Linked DNA regions of Homo sapiens: region 2 is linked to region 1. The links come from fine-mapping of genetic effects on gene expression. A gene starts in region 1. The other region holds a variant in brackets. All regions are shown on one strand. Distances are from middle to middle.

Region 1 (5,361 bases):
CCTACACAGGACTTTCCCTTGGAGCTGCATTCTCTAGTCCAAAAACAGGCTTAGGGCTTGGGCCCGGAGCTCAGGCCTGGGATCCAGGGGCTGAGATGATGGGGCTGGTGGGTGCTATCAGGGGGAGGATGAGTTAACCAGGGACCTATTCCTCTTGCAGTTTCTCGTGAACTGTAACAGCATTCAGAATCTGCCCAGCTTGACCTTCATCATCAATGGTGTGGAGTTCCCTCTGCCACCTTCCTCCTATATCCTCAGTGTAAGTCCTGGTCCCTGCAGGCTGAGCCACCATGATTGGGGTTGGGAGGAAGGGCTGGGGAGCCAGAAATGCTGGGTCTCCTGCCTTGTGCCATTTTCCGACTCCACGCTTGTACTCATTTATCTTCCCCACTCATTGATTCTAAACCCCCTTCTCTGGAACAAGGCTATGAAATAGAAGATTGTCATCTATGATCAATTATTATTAATTAGTGGGGAGAGGCACTGGGCTCTTTGTTGAGCACTTACTAGGGCAGACCACTGTGCAAAGCACTTTGCTTCATGATCCCATTTAATTGTCACAGTATTTAATGAGGGAGATACTCATTTCTGTTTTACAAATGAAAACTTGGAGGTTCAGAGAGGTTGAGTAACTGACTCAAGGCGACACAGCTAAGGTTTGAATTCAAGTTGGTTTGGCTCCAAGGTTTAACCACCAGGCTGATCTGCTCCAAATTGGGAGCAGGAGGGAGGTCTGTGGGAAGAGAAGTTTCCCATCATGGGGAGAGGAGACCCTGCTGAGGACCACGGCAGCCTGAATGTACCTGTTCCAGAAATCCTCCCACCCGCTCTGCTCTGGTGGCTCAGTTGGCCTATGAGCCCTCAAGGCAGAGACCCTGGCTCCCTCAGCTCTGCACTTGTGCTCCCAGCCCAGGGCTCAGAGCTGAGCAGGGCCCAGCTCATGTGTGGACAAATGAATGAGTGCTGCCTTTCTTTGTTGAGCAGAACAACGGCTACTGCACCGTGGGAGTCGAGCCCACCTACCTGTCCTCCCAGAACGGCCAGCCCCTGTGGATCCTCGGGGATGTCTTCCTCAGGTCCTACTATTCCGTCTACGACTTGGGCAACAACAGAGTAGGCTTTGCCACTGCCGCCTAGACTTGCTGCCTCGACACGTGGGCTCCCCTCTTCCTCTTGACCCTGCACCCTCCTAGGGCATTGTATCTGTCTTTCCACTCTGGATTCAGCCTTCTTTTTCTGGACTCTGGACTTTCTCTAATAATAAATAGTTCTTCTTTATGTTGGTCATCCTGTTGTTTTTGGAAGGGAGTTTTCCCTGAGTGGCTACAAGGTTTCCTGGTGGGTCACTGTGATTCTAAGAGAAATGGGACCTAAGGCATGGCTTGGGATGGGCTCTGTAACCCTCAGAGCTTAAAGTTCATACTTTTCCCCTGGAAAGGGAAGACAGTGGTAGCGCCATCATGGGTGGGTGGGTGGCGGGCCGGGGGAGAGTGTTCCTACTTGAGTCACAGAGAAATCGAGCCTATTTGCTGGAACCAACTCAGCAAGGGATCTTGTCCCTTTGGACTTCATCCCTGTCCTCCTCAGGAGCCTCTTAGCAAAAGATCCAGAAACCAGGAGCAACATTGTATGTGGGGAAGGAGGAGAGAGAGGAAGAAAAGGAGGAGGGGAAGGAGAAGAAAAGCAGGGGAGGGGCTGGGGGAGGAGACAGGGAAAAAGGGGCGGGGAAGAGGAGAAAGTAGAGAATGATGCCTCCGCACCCTGTGAACTTCCAACAAGGGAAGGTGACATGAAAGGAGCTCAGACAATTTCTGTCCAGCAACATGACAGCAAGCTCAGGCTGGTGAGTGGGGCGTGAATGTAGAACCCATAATGGGGGCAGGCTGCCTTCTACTGTCATATTTTACCCTGTACTTCGCCAGGCTCACCCTGGCCTTGCCCCTTATGATCGGGGCAGGGATAAAAGTGCAAGATCCAGGTCCTGCACCCTACTCCTGAAGAGAAGCTGGAATTTGCCACAGGTGGAGTTTCTATGGCAACAGCACACCATCTGGGACCCTCTCTTTCTTAGACTGCCGAAGGACAGCAGGCTGCAGGTTCCTTTTAGGGGGTCGGACAGGCTACAGAATGTATCTTAGTGAGCCCTGGTTTGGGACTTTACTGAGAGGAGAAAGAAAACTTGCAAAGAGGTAGAAGTGGATCAGAGGTTCCAAGTCAAGAGCCTCTTTCCCTGTAAGCCTTAGTCCGCTGAGCGGGACTACAAATCCCGGCGTGCCTAGCGGGACTGCAGCGAGAACTACGCTTCCCAGTGGGCGCCGAGGCAGAGCGGCTGGGAGGCGGGGCGGGTGCTGCCCTCTGCCGGGCGCGGAGGGAAGTGTGCGTGGAGTGACAGCCGGAGCCCGGGCGCCGGGCGCGGGGCTCGGTGACAGCGGAGGCGGCGGCCCGGGCGGGACGCAGGGAGCGGCCGCGGCGCCGACGGCGGCGGGAAGGGCGGACGGGGCGGGCCTCCCTGGTGGCACGGGGCCGGAGCAGGCCGGGAGCAGGTGGCGGGCACAGCTTGCGGGCCAGGCACCCGAACTTGCGACAAGTTGCCGGAGCCGCGGGGCGCGGGCGGCGGACAGATTGACCTTCAGAGCGAGGTGAGCGGGACCGGGGAGCGAGAGGCACGAGGAGGGCCCGGGACCCCCGACCCAGGCTCCCTGGCCCCTATCCCGTGGGTCCCGGAGACAGGTGGGAGGGTGGGGGATGCCGGCAGGAGAGGGAAGCAGGACCGTGCGCGCCGCCACCCACCCGCAGTCCGTCCGCCCCCGGGCGCCCAGCGCGTGGCCCGAGCGGCGCTGCCCGCCGAGCCGGGAGCCCCCTCGGCCCCTCCCTTCAGGCGCGGGCCGGGGGCGGCTTCTCCGCGACCTTATGTAACCGGGCGGGAGGGGCCGGGCGGGCATGGGCCTTCCCGGCCCGGAGCTGGGAGTCGAAGGGGCGGGAGGCGTGATGGTGAACTCGCAAGAAGTTTGAGGGACGCGCGGGCCCCGCGCCCACTCCCCCTCCACCGGACACGGCTGGGGCCGGCGATGCCTGAGAGGGGGTCGGAGGTAGGGGAGGTGTGCGGGGGCTGAGTCTGGCCAGGCCAGCGGGGGGAGTGGGAGGGCCAGAGCGGCGCCACGCCCCGGGGGCTGGGCTGATGGGGGGGCGGGTGGAAGTACCATCTCTCCCTCCCTTCCCGTCCCTTCCTCCAGCTCGGTCTCTTGAAGAAGCCGCCCCTGGCCCCGTCCCCTCGAGTCCCTGGGCAGTCTCTTTCTCCCCGTGGGTTATTCTATGACCCTGGGGAACACCAACCCCGGAGCGCTCCCTCCGTGCGCCCCGTTGTCTGCCTCCCCCCGGGTTCCCAGCTGCCTGCCCGCCCCCCGAGTTTCCCCCTCCCCCCGTCTCGGTCCCGAATCCCGGAAAACACGCCCCCTTCCCCCCGATCCCCCGAGTCCGTGCCGCCCACCCCTGGGCTGTCCCGACCAGCTCTGGCCCAGCGCGTCCGCTCGCCTCCTGGAAGGGAGCGGGCAGATGCCAGCTCGGCCCCCTCCCCGCGCGGGGTTCCGGCTTCACGCACGGCTGCCCCGAGCTGCTCCGGGCTGCGCGAGCAGGTTCGCGCCGCAGCCGCCTGGCGCGCCCCAGCCCCGCGCCCCGGGTGAGGAAGGGAGGGAGCCCGGGGCGGGGCTTGTCTGCGCGAACCCCGCTGGGCCCAGGCCCCCGCCCTCCGCTCTCCGCCAGCCCCTGGCCGCTGCGCCTTCCCCCGAACCCCCCTCAGCTCCAGCCGTCGTTCTCTCGCCTGTCTGTTCTGGGGACGGTTCAGCGCGGAGCTTCTGCACTCAACTTGAGCGCAGTTTTTGGCTTAGAGCTCGCTGGGGAAGTGCAGGTTAATTACTGCCCAGCTCCCATCCTCTGCCCTCCCCCCATCCCGAGTGAGGGGCTGCTTCATCCCTCAGGGAAAGGGACAAGACGGATGCAGGCCCCCAGTGACACCTCTGGGGTGTGGCCTCAGGCCCCTGCACCCGCCCTGGCCGAGATTCCATTGGCCCAGACCTGGCACTGTTGGGCAGCTGGGGATGAGGTTGGAGGCTGGTCTCTGGTTTCCTTCTGGGTGGACAGATGCGGATGCGCTCGGTTAGAACGCAGTTCTTGGTGCCACGACTGGGAGACAGTCCTCAGGCCCTCCCCTCAGGGAGCTCACTGTCCGGGGAGGGACAGCCAGCAATAGTTCCTGGCCGGCCAGGAGAGGCAGAGGCAGAGGAAGGGAAGGGTCAGCTGCCTTGAGGTCCCTGCCTGCTAACCTGACGGTATGCTTTCACCATGCCGGTGACCCCAGCCCCAGGACCACGAGCAACTCGCCTGGCTCCCTTCTCTCCGTCTGCCTCCTGGCCGCGGGGCCCGGAGAGCTGGGAGCCAGAGGGTGTAAATGAAGGGCAGAGCTGTTTGGGTGACTCCATGCTCTGCTTCTCCCCGAGGGAAGCCAATGGTGCTTACCATTTACAAGGCTTGTTACAGCTGCAGGGTTATTTTGTCCTCAACTCAGCTCTGGGAGACGGAGCCAAATGGGGACCCAGGTATCTTGGTTCCGGGTGCCCTGGAAGGAGTTCAGGGGATAGGGCAGGGGACACCCTAGGTGGGCACTGAATCTAGGGAGAGCCAACTGGGCTTTTACGGGCTAATGGCCTGGTGACTCACAGTCAGAGGTGGGCAGGGAGTGGGCCAGGGCAGGCAGGAGCCCTTCCAGGGTCCCACGTGCGCTGTCACAGGCCTCCTCAGCCTGTTTCTGGAAAGCTGAGAAGTAGGTGGAAGGGGACTCCCACCCCTCAAGTCTGGCTGCCCTTTGAGGGTCTAGCTCTTGGCCCTGAGCCCTCCTGGGGCTCTGTTTATGACTGTAATTGCATCATTAGCCAGAGTTAATAGAGTTACTTAGCACCTGCCCCCACAGGGAGTAGCCCAGCCACCCCCTGGGTTCTGTCTCTTCCTTTTCAAAGTCAACTCGGTTTCTGCAGGCAACAGGGGTTTCCCCAACCACAGCTGTCATGAAAACCAGGTTGGGCCTTTGTCCTGGGGATGGAGGGCAGTCAGCACTTGGGGCCTGGCTTGGGGCTGCCCTGGAGATGACCATGGAAATTGGGTTGGCCTCCTCTGATCGGAGGGTGGGAGTTCAGGGTTCCCAGAGCTGCCAGAAATGTTCACGTCCCAGGACGCAGTGAACATATATGCATGTACAGTGTGGATCCTCATCTGAGAGGAGGGAGATGAAAACACACCCACCTCACAGGCTGTTGTGAGGACTAAGGGTGCGGCAGTGCCTGGTACATGGTGAGTACATGATGTTGCTTT
Region 2 (5,361 bases), 23 kb after region 1:
GGCTGTGGTCCTAGCTCTCCCTAAGCTGTGTGGTCCGCACATACTCCCTGCTTCCTCCAGACTTCCGCAACATGGAGAGGCCAGAGAAAACTGTGGTTTTCAGATTCTTCGTCACAGTCCCAGAAGGTGCCTTGGGTACTATCTGGGAGCGTGGGGGAGGCCCTGGTTGGAGGCCAGGTGGGGTGGTCCTCCCACTCCCCATGCTGCTCTCCTGCTCCTCACACTGACTCCTGGTGCTCCATGGAGCGGCTTCATCCTCATGTTTTACATATCAAGGGTCCAGGCCGACTTTGTCTGAAAATGGGAGTGCTGCTGCTAACATCAACCTGGGACTTTCTGGTAGGTGACTCCCAGGCTCCTTGTCGTCTGACATTTTGTGCCCTCTGACTTGGCATGGACTCCCGGAGGAGTGCCAACCTGTATATCAGGGTCTGGAGTGCTGTGGTCACTGGATTCCCTGAGGGCTGGAGTCCCTTGGGGTGTGGAGGGCAGAGGAGGCTGCCTCCAGGGCCTCTCTGGGGCCGGGCCGCCACTCAAGGGTAGAGCTTCCAGCGCTGCCCCAGTCTCCCCGCACCCTCGGGATGGGGGTCCCCTGAAGACAATAGTCCGTCTCAGAAGCAGTGTCTCACAGGAGGGAGGGGTGATATGGGCAGAAAGGCCCTGCCAGAGTGCTGGCATGTAGTAAGTGCTCAAGAAATATTTGAAATGAATGAATGGAATGATACCATCAAGGCCGCACCTCTGATCTGGTGATGAATTTTCCCTCGCCTCCCTTTTCTTCCTTCTCGCCCCTGCTCCCTCTTCCCCATCCTCTGCTTTGTCTGACTAGCCATAAGCTACCCCAGCCTGGGTTCCAGATTCAGCCTTATTCATAATCTAGAACAAAGACACTTCCCCAATGTGAGTTACAGTTTGTTCATCTGGAAAACAAACACGATGGGCTCAGGTTCCGAAGGCCCTTTGGTTCTCACCGTCTCTTTTCTCAGGGCATGGGAGTGATTTCTCAGAGTAGGGGTGGTAGAAGCACATGCATACACACACGCACACACACAGACACGCACGCACATGCACGCACATGCATGCACATGCACACACACGCACACATGCACACGCATGCACATGCACACACACGCACACATGCACACGCACACACACACACACGTGCACACACACACGCACACACAGGACTCAGTGCAGTGGTCTTGGCTGGGAAAGGTCCTTGCCCTCTGACCAGGAAGGAGCCCTCGGAGCTGAGGTGCTCCCAGACTCAGCACTGTTTGGGGCCTACAGGATGTGGTGTGGCCCACTCTAGCTCAGGCTGGGGGGTTCCTGTGGGTGTCAGGGGATGGGTGGCCATCCAACTGTGTCCACTGGGCTGGGCTGCCACAGTGACTTTGTGTATGACCTTCAGGGAGTGTGGGTGGCATGCATCAGGACGCCTATCTGTGTCGTTATGACTGGGCGTGAGGGAGGGTGCCACATGTCTAGCCAGCCAGGGAGCAGGGCCAGTTAGCTCCTGTTCCTGGGTGCCTCCTGGCTCTGGGGAGAATAGAAAATGATTCATGCAAAGGGGCCCTCCCTGTTTTGGCCACAGCCTGAGGAGTAAGGTGGCCTGGCTGTCTGCCTTTCCCTGCTGCCCACCAGGTGCCTGAGTTCTCCCCTCCTTCCTCGCCTCAGACCGCGTTTCTCCCTGGGGGTAGGTGGCTGCCCTTCCCTGCAGCCTGACACCCTCTCAGAGACAATTAGAGGAGTAGGCTGCCCATGCCTACAGCTATAAGAGTGAGTCAGCGTAGGGACCGGAGGGGATCAAGTCTCTCTGAATCCTGCGGCCAGACGGTCCCTGCACCAGAAGAAGTGGCCCAGTGAGGCCTGGGCTGGGATGCTGTGGTCAGCACTGATACCAGCTGAGTGGCTTTCCAGCTTGAGAAGACCTGCCAGGGACAGGAGAGGACAAGCTCCACCTGCCCACCACCCGCCTCGCCATCCTGGCTGCAGCCAGCTGGTGACTCATTCTCCTGGGGAGTGAGCCAGCTCCTCTCCTGGGGTACCCCAGCACCCTGGTGCAGGCTGGGTGGCCAGGAGTCCTGGGTGCCTCAGAAAACCTGTGCTGAGCCCAGGGCCCTGGTAAGCTGGGGAGGGAGGACTGAGGCCCTCTGTATGGGGTGGGGGTCGCAGCCAGACTTCTCTTGCTCCTTCTCCTGGCCCCCGCAGACTTCACCCTCCCTCTGGCCAAAGAGGAGGCTGCAACCCCAGATTACGTAATAGGTCCAAAATGCCTCGCAAGCGAGCAGCCCAGCCAGTGGCTAGACTCAGGAGTCCCCATTTCCCAGTACCTGCCACCAG[A/G]GCAAGTTCCCATTCCCTTCCTAGGCCGGGTGGGGGAGTGGGTGGTGCTTGCTCACCCCTGGAAAGAGCTGTGCTGCCTGGGAGGGGGTGGGGAGGCTTTCTCCAGAGACATGAATTCTTGGCCTGACCCCAGATGCCAGCCTGCCTGCCCAGCTCCACTCCAGAGTAACGCTGGGTGCACACACAGCCCCATTGTGTGCCTGGGCCCCGTGCCTGCCCAGGGCCTGGCACCGGCTCTATCAACAGCAGTGGCTCCGTCAGCTCCTCAGCAGCCCCTGCCAGTGCTTGAGCCCTTGGGCCCCTGGTGAGGAGGAAGAGGGAGGACTAGTGATTAAGGGTATGAGTCCTGGGTGGGGTACCAGGACCTTTTGGATACTATCAACTATGAGAGACAAGAGCAGGGAGACTTAGTCCTGTTCTCCGAGGAGGAAACTGAGGCCCTGAGAGGCTTCAGTAACTTGCCCAAGGCCTCATGGCTAGTGAGAAGCAGAGCCGGGGTTGGAGCCCAGAGCTGTGGCTGAGCCCCTTACTGGTCTCGTCACCCAATCCCAGACCAGGACTCAGGAAAAGGCACGGTGCCCTCTTTCCACAGCCCCACTTTGGGGAGCCTCTTTCTCGAAAATATATGTCCCCAGGGTAGAAGAGGACCCTGAGACGGTAGGATCTGGAGTCCTGTAGGACCCTGGAATGGTAGGATTTGGAGTCCTGTGTGCTTGTGAGAAACATGGGGGTTCATTTTCAAGGATGGTGCTGGTGGCCAGACAGGCAGAGCAGGTTTCCAGAGCTGGAGGACAGGCTCTGTGCCTCAGTTTCCCTGCTCTACCTGCACTGTACATCCACTGTGCCTTCTAGGAGGGGATAGAAATATTGAGGTGAGGTATGGCCGGGGCTGGGGACTGGACCCCCACTGCTGAGCTCTATAGGCTGTGCGAAGCCCCCTTCACCAACCCAGAACCCCACTCAATGCCTCATGATGGTTCTATTCTAAGTTGGGTCTGAGCCATCCACCTCCTCAGCTTTCCCAGCCTGAAGAGGCCTCTGAGCTGGGTGAGCCTGCCAAGGGGGCAGCCCAGCTCGGTGCCATGAGGGCCCTGCCTCTGCCGCAGGCCCATGTTCCCCCACCCCCCTGCCAAGGTGAGGGTGCCCAGACATGACCCTTTTGGGGCCTGCCCTGTGTTTTACTTTCCAGGCTAGGCTTATTCACTCAGAGAGGCTTGACCCCCTGGGGCTTGGGGGAGCTGAAGGGCTCCTCCCTTCTCCAACAGCCCACCCTTTTGTTCCCCTGTCTGTCTTGGGCATGAAGCCTGGCTCCCTCCTTCTACACCACCTCAGCGCTCTTAGCAAAGGGACAGGGAATTCTGCAGTGACTGCAGGATTGTGAAATGCCAGGGCTGGACCTTGGGGACAGGCAGGGAAGAGAGATGCTGGAAGGGGACACCGAGACTGTGTCCTTTCATACCCCACCTGGGAGGCCAGTCTCCTCCATTCTGCTGGCGCTCATTTTCCTGCATGTATACCATTCCCACCCACCAGTCAGCACACCTTCACCTAAGGCCACAGCGGTGGGGACGTTGAGCCCAGAGGGCCATGTCCGAGTGTCCTCTACCTGGAGCCTGTGTGGGAGAGGAGGAAACCAAGGGACAGCCCTCAAGGAGTTCACACTGCAGCTGAGAAAACCAGAGAGGTGACTTCTTTGTACCTGTTTCTCATTTGTAAAATGAGTACAGTAGTATTTCCTACTTCCTAGTGTTATTGGGAAGGCCAAATGAATTAATACATGATAAAGCCAAGGGCCTGGCACTGGCTCTATCACGGCTTTAGAAGCCATCCTTGATAGATGGTTTTACAACTCAATACAAGTTTTAGTATTATCCATAGTGGTAGAAGAAATACAATATATGCTATCAGGTGATGATGTTTTTTCCAAGCTGGATTGTAAAAACCATAGGGCAAGGGCTGTCTTATTCATCCTTGTATTCCTGTTTCAGACACAGAACCAGGCTTGGAACAGAGTAAGTAATTGTGCCCAAATGGTGATTAGAGGTGGGTGAAGTCAGGGTGTGCTGTCGGGAGGAGGAGGAGACCCTGGAGCAGGGCTTCCAGAGAGGAGGAGAAGTTGGATAATCTGTGGGAGAGGAACTGGGGGAGGGTCTGGGGGCCCAGATTGGGTTGGCGTGAGAGAGCAAGGAGGTCCCCTTGGCTGCACCCAGTGTTTGTTTAGGGAGAGGGATCCTGCATGCTTTGGAGGCCCAACTAGAGCGCTTGGACTTTATCTGGTAGGTAGTGGAGAGCAATTGGGGGTGATGGAGCAGGAAAAAAATGGTCTTTCTATGTTGCTCCATCTGTTTCATTTTGTTTTTGCTCCCTTGTTCTCTGAGGAATATTTTCTTTCTTCATTTCTCCAAAGACAATAAATCCTCTCTGCTCTTCAGCCTCTTCTTTCTGATCCGTAGTTACCCCTGTCCCAAATCCCTGCATTCTGTTCTTGGCTTCTTCTCCTTGGCCATCCTGGCCTGTTGTCCCTGCTGTGCTTTTACCTGGCTTCCCCTTCCTTTATCTGGTCCCTGACCCACCTTCTCTGGAATAGGAGTTGGGTGGAGTTGGACTTGCTGAGAGATGGGTACTGGCATGGCATGACCACATGGTGGGAGCTGGTATGAAGGCAACTGAGCCAGGAGGATATCCTCTATTCTGATGTAACTCTATACATCCTTCAGGGAATGACTCTGCCCCAGTTATGTGGCTAAGGCCCATTAGAAGGATCTTACTTTATATTTGTCAACCTGTTTAATGAAAATGTAGATTTCCAAAATAGATAAATTAGGGAGTGATGGAATCTTATTTTCTCGTTTATAAATTTAGTGGAAAGATCAGCACTTTGGGAGGCTGAGGCAGGAGAATCGCTTGAGGCCAGGAGTTCAAGACTAGCCTGGGCAACATAATGAGACCCCCATCTCTACAAAAAATAAACAAATTAGTGGGGGCATAGTGGCACACACTTGTGGTCTCAACTACTTG

Evidence for each region. PIP is the estimated chance that this variant, and not a neighbour inherited with it, causes the effect. A credible set is the group of variants that fine-mapping cannot tell apart.
Region 2: its variant is the best candidate, but not a certain one, in a credible set for the expression of TFEB in whole blood (INTERVAL, PIP 0.51).

What each region holds. Positions count from the first base shown.
Region 1 is chr6:41,732,628-41,737,988 of GRCh38, reverse strand. TFEB (transcription factor EB) reads left to right here and starts at 2,381. Exons shown (of 9, transcript NM_001271944.2): 1 at 2,381-2,639. PGC (progastricsin) reads left to right here. Exons shown (of 9, transcript NM_002630.4): 8 at 161-259; 9 at 985-1,278. The coding sequence ends at 1,137. It overlaps MIR10398 (microRNA 10398), which reads left to right and starts at 4,379; the gene lies at 4,379-4,435. RefSeq lists silencers at 2,223-2,692, 2,733-3,262, 3,393-3,832 and enhancers at 4,483-4,592, 5,083-5,132, 4,489-5,185, 5,203-5,282.
Region 2 is chr6:41,709,911-41,715,271 of GRCh38, reverse strand. The region is part of intron 1 of TFEB (transcription factor EB); the gene reads left to right. Among named protein-coding and RNA genes, the nearest start is that of MIR10398, 21 kb to the left of the region's middle. RefSeq lists enhancers at 1,020-1,743, 1,744-2,469. The variant A/G (reference allele first, on the strand shown) is at 2,344.